Regions from separate parts of the Homo sapiens genome. Here region 2 is linked to region 1. The links come from fine-mapping of genetic effects on gene expression. A gene starts in region 1. The other region holds a variant in brackets. All regions are shown on one strand. Distances are between the middles of the regions. Region 1 holds the start of OLFM1 (olfactomedin 1). Region 2 overlaps FCN1 (ficolin 1).

Evidence for each region.
Region 2: its variant is fine-mapped to the expression of OLFM1 in whole blood (TOPMed, PIP above 0.99).

Annotation. Positions count from the first base shown.
Region 1 is chr9:135,085,452-135,090,811 of GRCh38, reverse strand. It overlaps OLFM1 (olfactomedin 1), which reads right to left and starts at 3,144. Exons shown (of 6, transcript NM_001282611.2): 1 at 2,673-3,144; 2 at 468-617. The coding sequence starts at 2,822. RefSeq lists enhancers at 880-1,683, 1,684-2,488, 3,123-3,983, 3,984-4,844.
Region 2 is chr9:134,911,151-134,916,510 of GRCh38, reverse strand. FCN1 (ficolin 1) reads left to right here. Exons shown (of 9, transcript NM_002003.5): 2 at 50-163; 3 at 1,702-1,755; 4 at 2,091-2,126; 5 at 2,898-2,930; 6 at 3,368-3,495; 7 at 3,896-4,025; 8 at 5,244-5,360. Among named protein-coding and RNA genes, the nearest start is that of FCN1, 4.1 kb to the left of the region's middle. The variant G/A (reference allele first, on the strand shown) is at 2,097.

The DNA.
Region 1 (5,360 bases):
TCTCGTAAAATCCAAATGGCCATGCATTCCTGGGCCTATGGGCGCTCTCCAAGGTAGCTGCTGGGTGACAGCCCCAGCCCTGTGCACACAGATTATGACATCACTCAGAGACGAGCCTTGTGTCCCGTCTCACCATGCCCATGTGACTTCTCAGTGGAGCCTGTGGTGACAGGGGGCAGGTCTAGTCCTCTCTTCCTGGACCACCCTTGGAAGTCTCAATCCACCTGTGTGTCCACCCACCCATCCACCCATCCGTCCATCCATCCACCCACCCATCCACCCATCCGTCCATCCACCCTTTCACTCATTCACAAATATTTTGAGTGGAGACAAACCAGGAAAGAGTCAAAATGGGGCCTGCAAGCTAGCCAAGCCTTGGTGCTGGTGTGAGCACACAGGCATGTACACACACACACACACACACAAACACACACACATACAAACTCACACACTCTGCGCAGACTCACCTTCTCCAGTAGCTGCCTCAGCTGTTTTGTGCGGGCATCCCGTGAACACATGGTCTGCTGTGGAGCGACCACTGTGCAGATACACCTGCCCTCGCTGTCCTGGGCAGAGCTGTACACCTGCCAGCTCTCCTCAGGGTTGGTGGGCAGCACCTGGAGAGGGGCGGGGCGGGAAGGGAGAGGGAAGGAGAGAAAGGGAGACCATGAGGTTGTGTATCAGAGCCAACAACCAGGGGAAACTGTCCACATCCACCCCCAAGGAAAAGATGGGAGGAAATGGTCCCAAGACATGTTTGACCCAAAGGGAAGAAAGGGTCCCTGGGAACAAAGAGGCACAGGTCTCCTGTTAGGGGGCTCAGGGCTGGAAGGATGTCAAAGAGGCAAGACCCTTTACGTTCTTAAAATTTAAGTTCAACTCAAGGGATGTCTGGAGTTTGTCGTCTGGCCAAATTGATCTGCTGGGTGGATGGGAGGGGCAACTGGAGGCCACAGGCTGGACTAGGAGCAAGGCAGGAAAGCAAACGCTGGGTGGCTTGCAGCGGGCACGTATTTCAGAAACAGGATATCCTTCCCGTAAGTCAAGCACGGGTGGCTGGCACCACCAAGCCTCGCCCTGCCGTTCCCTGACACTTGCAGACGAAGCACCCACTGTAACAGCCCCAGATCCAGCAGCCTATTCGCCCAGAGCTGTGATGAACCCCGAGCTACAGCAACCTCCCAGCCGGCAGCGTGGCACAGACCGACCCGAGAAAACACTAGGTTTCCAGCTCCTTGTGGGCTCCCCCCACGAGCCATTTGGTGGAGGTCGCCAAATTGCTGGTGACATGCTGTGCAGGGGTCACCCCCAACCTCAGTCCTGAGGTTTGCCCAAAGATCACCAAAGAAACCGGAGCTGCCCATGTCTGGTCTAACCTTGCAGCCCAGCCCTGCCAGGTACCGGGGCGGGCACTCCTGAGCCTACACAGCTCCATCCTGCTGCTGGCCCTACTGTCTCTGAGCACGCTCCCCTCCGGTGGCATCAGGTCATCTCTCTGCTATTTTTAGCATGAAGATGGGGAGGAGAAGTTGGGCGGGTAGAATCTATAGTAGTCATATCTTTAATCTCATTCATTCCCAACCCCAGAAGATCGGGACCGGCAGGCCGGAACAAAGTCATCATGGAGGAATCGCCCTCCGATTCCTGAAGGAGCAGGGAGGGCGGCCTCAAGAGGGGTCTTAGGAGGGAGCCACACCACGGAGCCCTCTTCGCAGGGCACTAAACCCCTGGCAGCAAAAAGAGAGAGGGAGGGAGACTCACGTCCTTCACCTCTCCTTTCAGCCTAAAGGGCCAGTGGTCTGGGGCGCGCCTTCCCGGCAGCGGCCCCTTCCCCGCGCGGCCCTCCGGGTGGCGGTTTCAGCTCAGCCTCGCTCAGCCATCTAAGTCAGCTCTGCCCAGAAGCAGCCCCGGCCACGGTTCCCCTCCCGCTAGGCTCGAGAGGGAGACGCGATTTCAATTTCAGAGGCCAGGAGGGAGGGGTGCGCGCAGAAGACGAAGGCAAAGGCGAGGGGGTGAGCGCCCAAGGGCAGGCTCCCAGGGGCCCCACCCAAGCCCCTCGGCACCGTCCTCGGAGGAGAAGGAACAAACCCTCCTATGGACTGGGGAGGAAAGGGCGCCTTGGGACTTTGGGAATGCAGGCGCGGGCAGGAGCTCCGGAGCCCACCGGCTGGGGCCCCACTCCCAGCCCGGTCCGGCCAGTCTGGCTTTTACAAACTAGGGCGGGCTCAGTCCCCGCTGGACCGAGCCCAGACTAGGGTCTAGCGGCGGCTCCACCCCTCACTCGCTGAGTGTGACCTTGGACAAGTCCCCAAGTCCCCAGCCTTAGTTTCCTAACCTTTTCAATGGGGGGCTCATGATTACTGACCCAGGACTCCAAGCCTCCGAGAACCCACCAAGCTCCCCCGGCCCCGCGGCGAGGGGCCCAGACGAAGGAAACGCCGCCCCAGGGGCGCGCGGGCGGAGATGGAGTGGCCCAGGCTGGGGGAGCGGGGAGCAGGGTCGCCACCGCTGCGCCGGCCCGCGACGCCTGCCCTTGCCCGCCCTGCTCCCCGCCGCCTCCCTGGGCGACTCGGGTCCCGCGCGGCGCCCGCCCAGCCCGGGGCTCCGGACCGAGGAGGGGGAGGAGGAGGAGGAGGAGGAGCCGCGCCAAGGCGGCCGGCGGGCGCACTTACGCCGGTGCTGCGGTCCAGCGTCCCGCCGCCGGCCGCCGAGAGCTTGGTGGTGTTGAGGCCCACCAGCGAGGGCAGCGTCTGGGACATCCAGTTAGTGATCATGGCCATGGTGCTCAGCACGACCCCGATCTTGAGCAGCGGCACCGACATCGCGCCTCGAGCTGCCTCCAGCGCCCGCTCCGAGCTGGCACCGGCTCCCGCGCCCAGGCGGCCTTCAGGCGGCGGGCACCGCGGCGGGCAGGGGCGCCTGGCTGTGTCCCCGCGCCCCCTCGGCCCGCCGCCGCCCGCCCGCCGCCGCCGCCGCCCCGCGCGCCCCGGCCATCGCCGCGCCTTCCCCGGGCGCCAGGGAAGGTGGCCAGGTGGCCTCTGCCCGCCGCGCCCTGCGCCTCGCGCCGCCCGCCCTGCGCCCTGCCTTGCCCGGCTGCGTCCCTCCGGGCTCCTCCGCCGCCACCGGGAAGCGCCGTCCGGCTCTGAGCGCTGCGCGGGCTGCGCGCGGGGGCCGCGGCCGGGAGGCGGGGCTCGGCCGGGCGGGACCGACGCAATCCGCCCAGGAAATGGGTGGATTTTTCCTCTCGCTCGGCTCCCCGCCGCCCCCTGGCTGCTGGCAGCGAGGTCTGCAAACTCCAGTCCGCCCAGGAGTTGGGATCAGGGTGACATGAGGAGACGGACACACCACCACCCCCAGATCATAAAATACCCGGCGGCGGCGCGGGGACTCCAGCTGGGGGCACGGCCCGCGGCCCTCCCGTCCCGGGGCTTCTCCCATCCTCACGCCGGGGCATCCCTCTCCGATCCCCGCAGAGGGTCCGCTTTGGGGCAAAGGTTGCCGGCAGAGAGACGGCGCCGTCCTGCCTACTGGAGCCCTTTTCCGCGGTGATTCGAGGGTCCCAGCCAGCCTGGGCCGTCGCCTGAAACCCAGCAGGCAGGGCAGGCTCCGAAAAGCAGCCAGACTCGCGAGGGCCTCCAGCGCCAGGGGGGCGTCGGGGCATCGGTGGAGAGCTAAAGGCGCCCCTGCGATCCCAGGGCAGCCGCGGTGCCCTAAGGCCTTGCTTGGGAGGAAGGGAGCCAACCGGCACTCCTGACACCTGCACAGCAAGGCGGGGGCTGGGGTGGTCTGCCGTGGCCCGCGGTGCGCAGTGAGGGCCCTGGGAGGGCGCACACCCGGCAGGAGCTGCATAAGGTCTGGGGCTCAGGCCTGGACCTCAGGAGCTGAAGGGACCACGCCCATGAACCTGGTGTTGGGGAGGTGGGTGTGTGGGGCGGGGACTGGGGTCTGTGGTGGAGGGGTGTGGGTTGGGGGGTGTCCTTACTGACTCAGGGGTGGCGCTCGAGTCATGGCGCCCAGGCACAGAGGCAGGGCAAGTGGCGCACGCTGCCCCTCTTCCCGGCCCTCTGCGGCGACCGCAGCAGGACTCACGCGTGTCAGTCCCACCTGAAGCGCAGGCCTGACTGGGTCAAACACGTTAATAGGGCTTTTGCATTTACAGAAGGCTTCTAATCGGAGATGAAAGCCACTTCCTCCGGGGCCTTCCATTAAGCTTTCCCAGCCATTTGGGAAGGAAAGAATCCTCCAGATCACTCACTACACTCTTCTCTGCCTGGGCGAAAATTAATCTCCCTTCCTGGATGGGATTTGAAAGACGGACGCCGGGCCGGAAGGAGCGCGCCTCCCTGGCGCCCGCCTGAGAGGAACAACGCCTTCCTGGGGCTTTTCTCTCTGTGTGCGCAGTCCTCGGCTGAAGAGACTTCAGCTGCAGCCAAGATGATCCTGGCCTGAGTGCTGGGTGTGAGACCCGCTAGTTAAATGAGCCCCTCAGATCTGCTTTTCTGATTAATGCTGTAATCTCAGGCAGCCGGGCTGGGTCGGATGCCAGGAAATTCCAACTGTTGGGGAAGGGCGCCATCTCCCAGTGTAAGCTGGGACTGCAGGCCCGGCTCACAGACTGGGCCCAGGCGGAGACACAAGTCCGGTTGGGCTGGCTTCGCCCCCCTCCTCTGGCCATGCATGTTTAACACCGATTCAAGGCCACAAGCCGTGTCTGTCCAGATCACTCACGCCGCTTCCCGCTGCGGAAGGACAAGGACCACTTGTTCTGCGGGAACAAATTCAAATGCAACCCAATCCAATCCACAAAACTGTCAGGCCATCTCAGAAGCCATAGACATTTATTTATTTAACGAAGTAAAAGATTAACCTGCACTTGGACTGCTCTAACCTGCACCTGAGCGGCTCCAACCTGCACCTGAGCGGCTCCAACCTGCACCTGCTCCAAACTGTCCTGTCCAGTTTCTAAAATCTGTGATTCAGTGGGCATAATGGTTTTGAAAGGGTCGTCAGATAAGGCTTGAGTAAGTGTAATTGGATTTAGAAGGCCATGGAGCATTCCAGAAGGAAAGTATGGATCGTTGAAGAATGAAGGCATTTGGATTAGGGGATCCATGGCGCCAGGCAATACCAAGTGTTCCTAAAGAGGACTTTCAATCCCAATTTCTTCACGACTTCTCTTAAAGCCAGGGCTCATCACACCTGCAGCTCTGAACAATCATACGGATGCTGATGGGGCAGGTGCTGCGCCCCTGGTGGCACTGGGGCTTTGCCATGCCTGGCACCCAATCCTTACTGAAGTGCATGGTGTGGTGGCATTGACTCCACTGTATAGATGAGGAATCTCAGGCCTAGAAAGATGA
Region 2 (5,360 bases), 170 kb after region 1:
CAGCCACTGTTGGGCCAGGCACTGAGTGGGCACCTGTGTTTCTCTGCAGAGGTGAAGGTGGTGGGCCTGGAGGGCTCTGACAAGCTCACCATTCTCCGAGGCTGCCCGGGGCTGCCCGGGGCCCCAGGGCCAAAGGGAGAGGCAGGTGTCATTGGAGAGAGAGGTAGGTGCGGGCCGGGTGGGGAGGCCAGGCATGGCAGGGGCACTGGCTCTTGCTCTTTATGAAACTGGATGCAGAGTTGGGCAACACCCCCACCGTGGTTCCTAGATCAAGAGCCTGGGTCAGGCCCCTGCTAGAGCCAGGAACAGAGCTGACTCCCAGGGCCCAACAGGGTTCTGAAATGGAGGGAGGGTCTTTCCTAACTATTTCATGAGCTCACATTTGGACATGCTTCTGTAGCTCTGTCTCCTAGTCCTTGATCCAATACCAGCTTTGCTCAGCTACTGGCACGACTTCTAAGCTCTGTGTCCCTCCACCTTCTCACCTGAAAATTGAGGTGACCGCTTTCTTCTGCACCTGCCTCATATGGGAAAACTGAGACTCAAAGAGGTCACAGGCTTTCCTACTTGACAAACCAGTAAGGAGTGGGGCTGGGACTTGGACTGGTCTACTTCAGGGCACAGAGGGCACCCGAATCCTGAGCCCTGAGCTCTGCATGTGGATTTGCAGGGAACATGGGAGAATGAACAGCAGGCACCTGCCTTGGGTGGTTTTGGGTCCCCCTAAGCATGGCATAAGGCAGACGTGCACAAAAACTCAGAAAGGGCGCTGCCTTAGGGGGTGAGCTCCCCATGCCTGGACGCATTCAAGATGATGCCTGCGGAGCACTTGGTGGGGATGTCCCAGTGTAGATGGGACAAGCTCAAATGTCCCTATGACTTGGACTTTCACTGACGTGTCTAGGCTTCCGTGTGGGTGTCCGGGGCCAGGTCCTCTGTGCCCACTCCGCAGGCTGGACCTGAGAGTGCGGTCCCGATCCCCTGCTGAGGGAACACTGGGGAGGAAGACCTTCCCTGGCAGGAGAAGAATCAAGTCTGGCTCAGACTTCCCTTGAACCAGGCTTCTACCAGTGGGCATGGCTGGCTAATATACCCTAAAGCAAGAACCAGCCCCCATACACTCTCCCCAGCCACTGGGGTCAGCGAGCGGGCTGGGGGCTGCCTCTTGGCTGGCATCGGGGACGGGAGGGTCACCTTTCTGGCCAGAACCACGTGGAGCGCTGTGTGACACCCCAGGAGCTCAGGCGCACGGTGGAACCGGATCCTCCCTGGCAGCAGCGGCTGCACGTGGCGCCCACCCTCTCCGTGTGGGGACGTGGTAGGATGAGGCTCTCTGAGGACGCATTCTTTGTTCCAGAACCTGGTCCCTTGCTAGGCAGTAGAGCTCTGTGTGGGTGACTTGGGTCCAGGCTTATGGTCAACAGAGTGTGAAACCCAGGTTGCTCCCAAGGCACAAACAGGAGCAAGGTGCACCTTGCCTTGAGCCCAAGGTGGGGTGCAGGCCCCTCCCTCAATCCCTCACCTCCATCTGCAGTCACCCCCAGGCTAAATCCATGGCTAGCAATTCTGAGAGCTCCTGGAACCAGAAGGGGTTCAAGGCAGAGTGGGGGAGGGTCAGGACTTAACCACTTGGGGCAAAGATTTCCAGGGAGAATTGTTTAGGTTGCATTTTTCTCAGTGATATGTCTTTGGAATTTTCAGGAGAACGCGGTCTCCCTGGAGCCCCTGGAAAGGCAGGACCAGTGGGGCCCAAAGGTAACCAGGGGACAGACAGCGAGGAGGCCTTGAGCAGGGACCTTGGAGCTGTCTGTAATGAAATGAGGGAGGGAGAGACAGAGACAGAGACACAGACACAGACACAGAGAGACACGGCAACAGAGAGAGAAAGACAGTGGCAGGCGGACAGGGACCCTGGGATATTCCAGGCCTCGGGGCCCCTCCCCACCATTGAGACCTGGGCGTTGTGATGCCTTAGTGAGCCTGCAGGGCTGGGGAGATGCAGTGTCCAGGCCGGGAGCCCACTCTGGACCAGCCTTTCCGTGGCCCACACATCTGGGGTCAAAAGCTCATTATCCTGCCTCTTCCTCCAGGAGACC[G/A]AGGAGAGAAGGGGATGCGTGGAGAGAAAGGTGAGCCACCCGTGGGCCCAGGCAGTTGTCTCTGCAGGCTTTGTCCAGGGGAGGGGTCTCAGAGGCCTCAGTCCGCCTGCCCACCGCCCACGTCCCTGTCAATCCAGGCTGTGGGCAGGGAGGGGTGGAAGGAGTCCAGCGGGCTTTGTTGTCAGAATCCACGAGGGCTCAAACCCTGGTGTCTACAGCAGTCACTCCCAGTGGCCAGCAGGACCACATCAGTGCATAGATGGTGACACTTCAATATTTCAATTTCTGTCTTACTTATGCTCATTTATGCAAAAATTGTAAAAGTTTAAAAAAGCCAAATGTGCAAGACTCTAATACACTGTACCACGCTCCACCCACAAACACAAATGAAAACCGGAGCCGGGGGCTGAGGGTCCGCCGATACCTGAGTCCCAAGAAACAGAGGCCAGGGCGGAGGCAGGGCAGGCTTGGAGTGACCCTGCCAGGCTTGAAGAGTTATTCCGCTGTTATCAGTGGCGAAGGCCCCACTAGGGGTCCAGTTCGTCCAGCAGGACCCGCAGCGCCTGCCACAGCCCACCAAGCTCAAGCTGCACAGCAGGGGCCTATGGACAACCATGTGGCTGGTGCCTCTGGGGAAGTCGAGTCTGGCCATCCTTCCCTAGGCCTGTGCCACGTGTCCTGGAGACATCAGAGGAGCTGCCTTTGCCCATTCTCTATTCTGTGCTCAGGGAGCCACTGGGGCTGACCAGGACAAAGGCTCTGATTTCAAGCTTATGACAAGTGTCTCCTCTCCCCACACAGGAGACGCTGGGCAGTCTCAGTCGTGTGCGACAGGTGACTGATCACACCCTGACCTCGGTACCCAAGCCTTGCCCCCACCCCTGGGGCCAGCTGCACACGTTCACGCTACGGAATCTAAGGACAGAACCCTGTCTGCACCTATCATCCCCCCCTCAATCACTCGAGTAATGGGCAGCTATCACCTGAATCCCTTCCATGACAACCTGGGCTCTACTATTATCTACCCTAGAAGGCCGGGTGCCCAGGAGGCAAAGGTGGGGCAGACACTGGGAGGTGGGAGGGTCGGCAGACTGGGTGTGGGCATCACAGCTGCGTGGCCCTGGGGGCCGTGTCCCTGTCCAGGCCTCGGAGTCCTGCTCGGTCCGCACAGAAGCCTGTGGCCCTCCTCCTCCCTCCTGGGCCTCCCTCCCACTGCCCCTGTCCTGCCCAGGGCCCCCGTCCTGCAGCCATTCCCCGGGTTCCCTTCCCAGGCCCACGCAACTGCAAGGACCTGCTAGACCGGGGGTATTTCCTGAGCGGCTGGCACACCATCTACCTGCCCGACTGCCGGCCCCTGACTGTGCTCTGTGACATGGACACGGACGGAGGGGGCTGGACCGTGAGTGTGGGGCTGGGCAGAGGCGGTCAGCCTGGGAGTCCCGGAGGCCAGGCTGCACACCTGGTTGTAGAACACACTCTGGAATTCTCTATTCCCCTGGATGGGGACAATCATAGATGATGGGGGAAGTGACCCGTGGGTAAAAGTCCAGGCCATCGGGGAGGCTGGGAGGGGACCGGTGCTCTCCTGCTGTGTGGCTTGGGGCTTGTTGCCTCTCTTCTCTGAGACCGCATTTCCTCTTTCATCCTGTGGAGTCTGTGAGGAGACCAGATGGGCGTGCGTGTGGCACCGGCCTGTGATGCTCTGCCAACTACAAATGCTGCTCCTCTGGAGGGCGGGTCCCCGGTGCTGTGGGACCTCGGCCTGCCCCGCCTAACTCTGTATCCTGGCTTCTTCACAGGTTTTCCAGCGGAGGATGGATGGCTCTGTGGACTTCTATCGGGACTGGGCCGCATACAAGCAGGGCTTCGGCAGTCAGCTGGGGGAGTTCTGGCTGGGGAATGACAACATCCACGCCCTGACTGCCCAGGGTAGGGCCACTGCCGTGGCTCAGGGGTTGGGGGGCCCTGAGGTGCTCCTGCCCCTTAGGCCTGGGCCATCTGCAACATAAGCACCTCTTGGCCCACAGGGGATTGGGCCCTGAGCACACTCAGGTGGCACTGGGACCTCTAAGGGCTGCGTCCCCTGCCGCAGGCTCTGGCAACATCGGGAAGGGAAACGGTTAGAGCCCTGGGCTGAAGGCCTCTTCAGGTCTTGGTCCTACTGGCATCTTAGATCCTGAGAGTGGGAAGCAGGAGAGAGACCACTGGGGCTTGGGGTAGCCTTCCCCCATCTCCAGCTGTTGATCTGCCTCTGAAGCTGGCATCTTAGTCCCATGGAGAGCCCACGCTCGCCTCCTCCAGCCCACGCCTCAGCAGGCCCCCCACAGCCGCACTCACCTGAGTGAGAGGGCCTCCCCCCAACCCTCTGGGGCAGGGGATGAGTTTCACAGCTGGTCCTGAGGCAGTCTGTATAATTGCTGGTCCATTATCCCTGCCCACTGCCCTGTGGCATGATTGAAGGAATCCACTCAGGTGCCTCAAATTCCTGCAAAAGAAACTACAATTAGAGCTTCGCCCACTGCTGTGTTAGTGGCTCACCAACCCTTAGAAGGAGAAGGTACACTTTCAAAATGAAAGAATGCTCCCTTCCACCCAGTGAACTCCAGTGGGGCATGTTCAGTTCTCTGAAATAACGGGAAAGGTGTTTAGAAACAGAAAGCCATCCCTGAGGGCCTGATAGCAACAAGGGATTTTCTGACATTTCCGGTTGATTTTTTTCCTGGATGCCACGTTCAGACATCCCTTAAGAATATATCCATCCCCAGCCGGGCACCGTGGCTCACACCTGTAATCCCAGCATTTTGGGAGGCTGAGGCTGGTGGATCATGAGGTGAAGAGATCGAGACCATCCTGACCAACATGGTGAAACCCCATCTCTACTAAAAATACAAAAAAAAAAAAAAGTAGCTGTGTGTGGTGGCACACACCTGTAATCCCAGCTACTGGGGAGGCTGAGGCAGGAGAATTGCTTGAACCCAGGAGGCGGAGGTTGCAGTGAGCTGAGATGGTGCCATTGCACTCCAGCCTGGGCAACAAGAGCGGAACTCTGTCTCAAAAAAAAAAAAAAAAAAATTACCCATCCCCAGCCCTCATGCCTGGTGACAGAAAGATCTTAAAGGCTGGGGCCTTAAAATCTTTTTCCAACAGGAAGCAGCGAGCTCCGTGTAGACCTGGTGGACTTTGAGGGCAACCACCAGTTTGCTAAGTACAAATCATTCAAGGTGGCTGACGAGGCAGAGAAGTACAAGCTGGTACTGGGAGCCT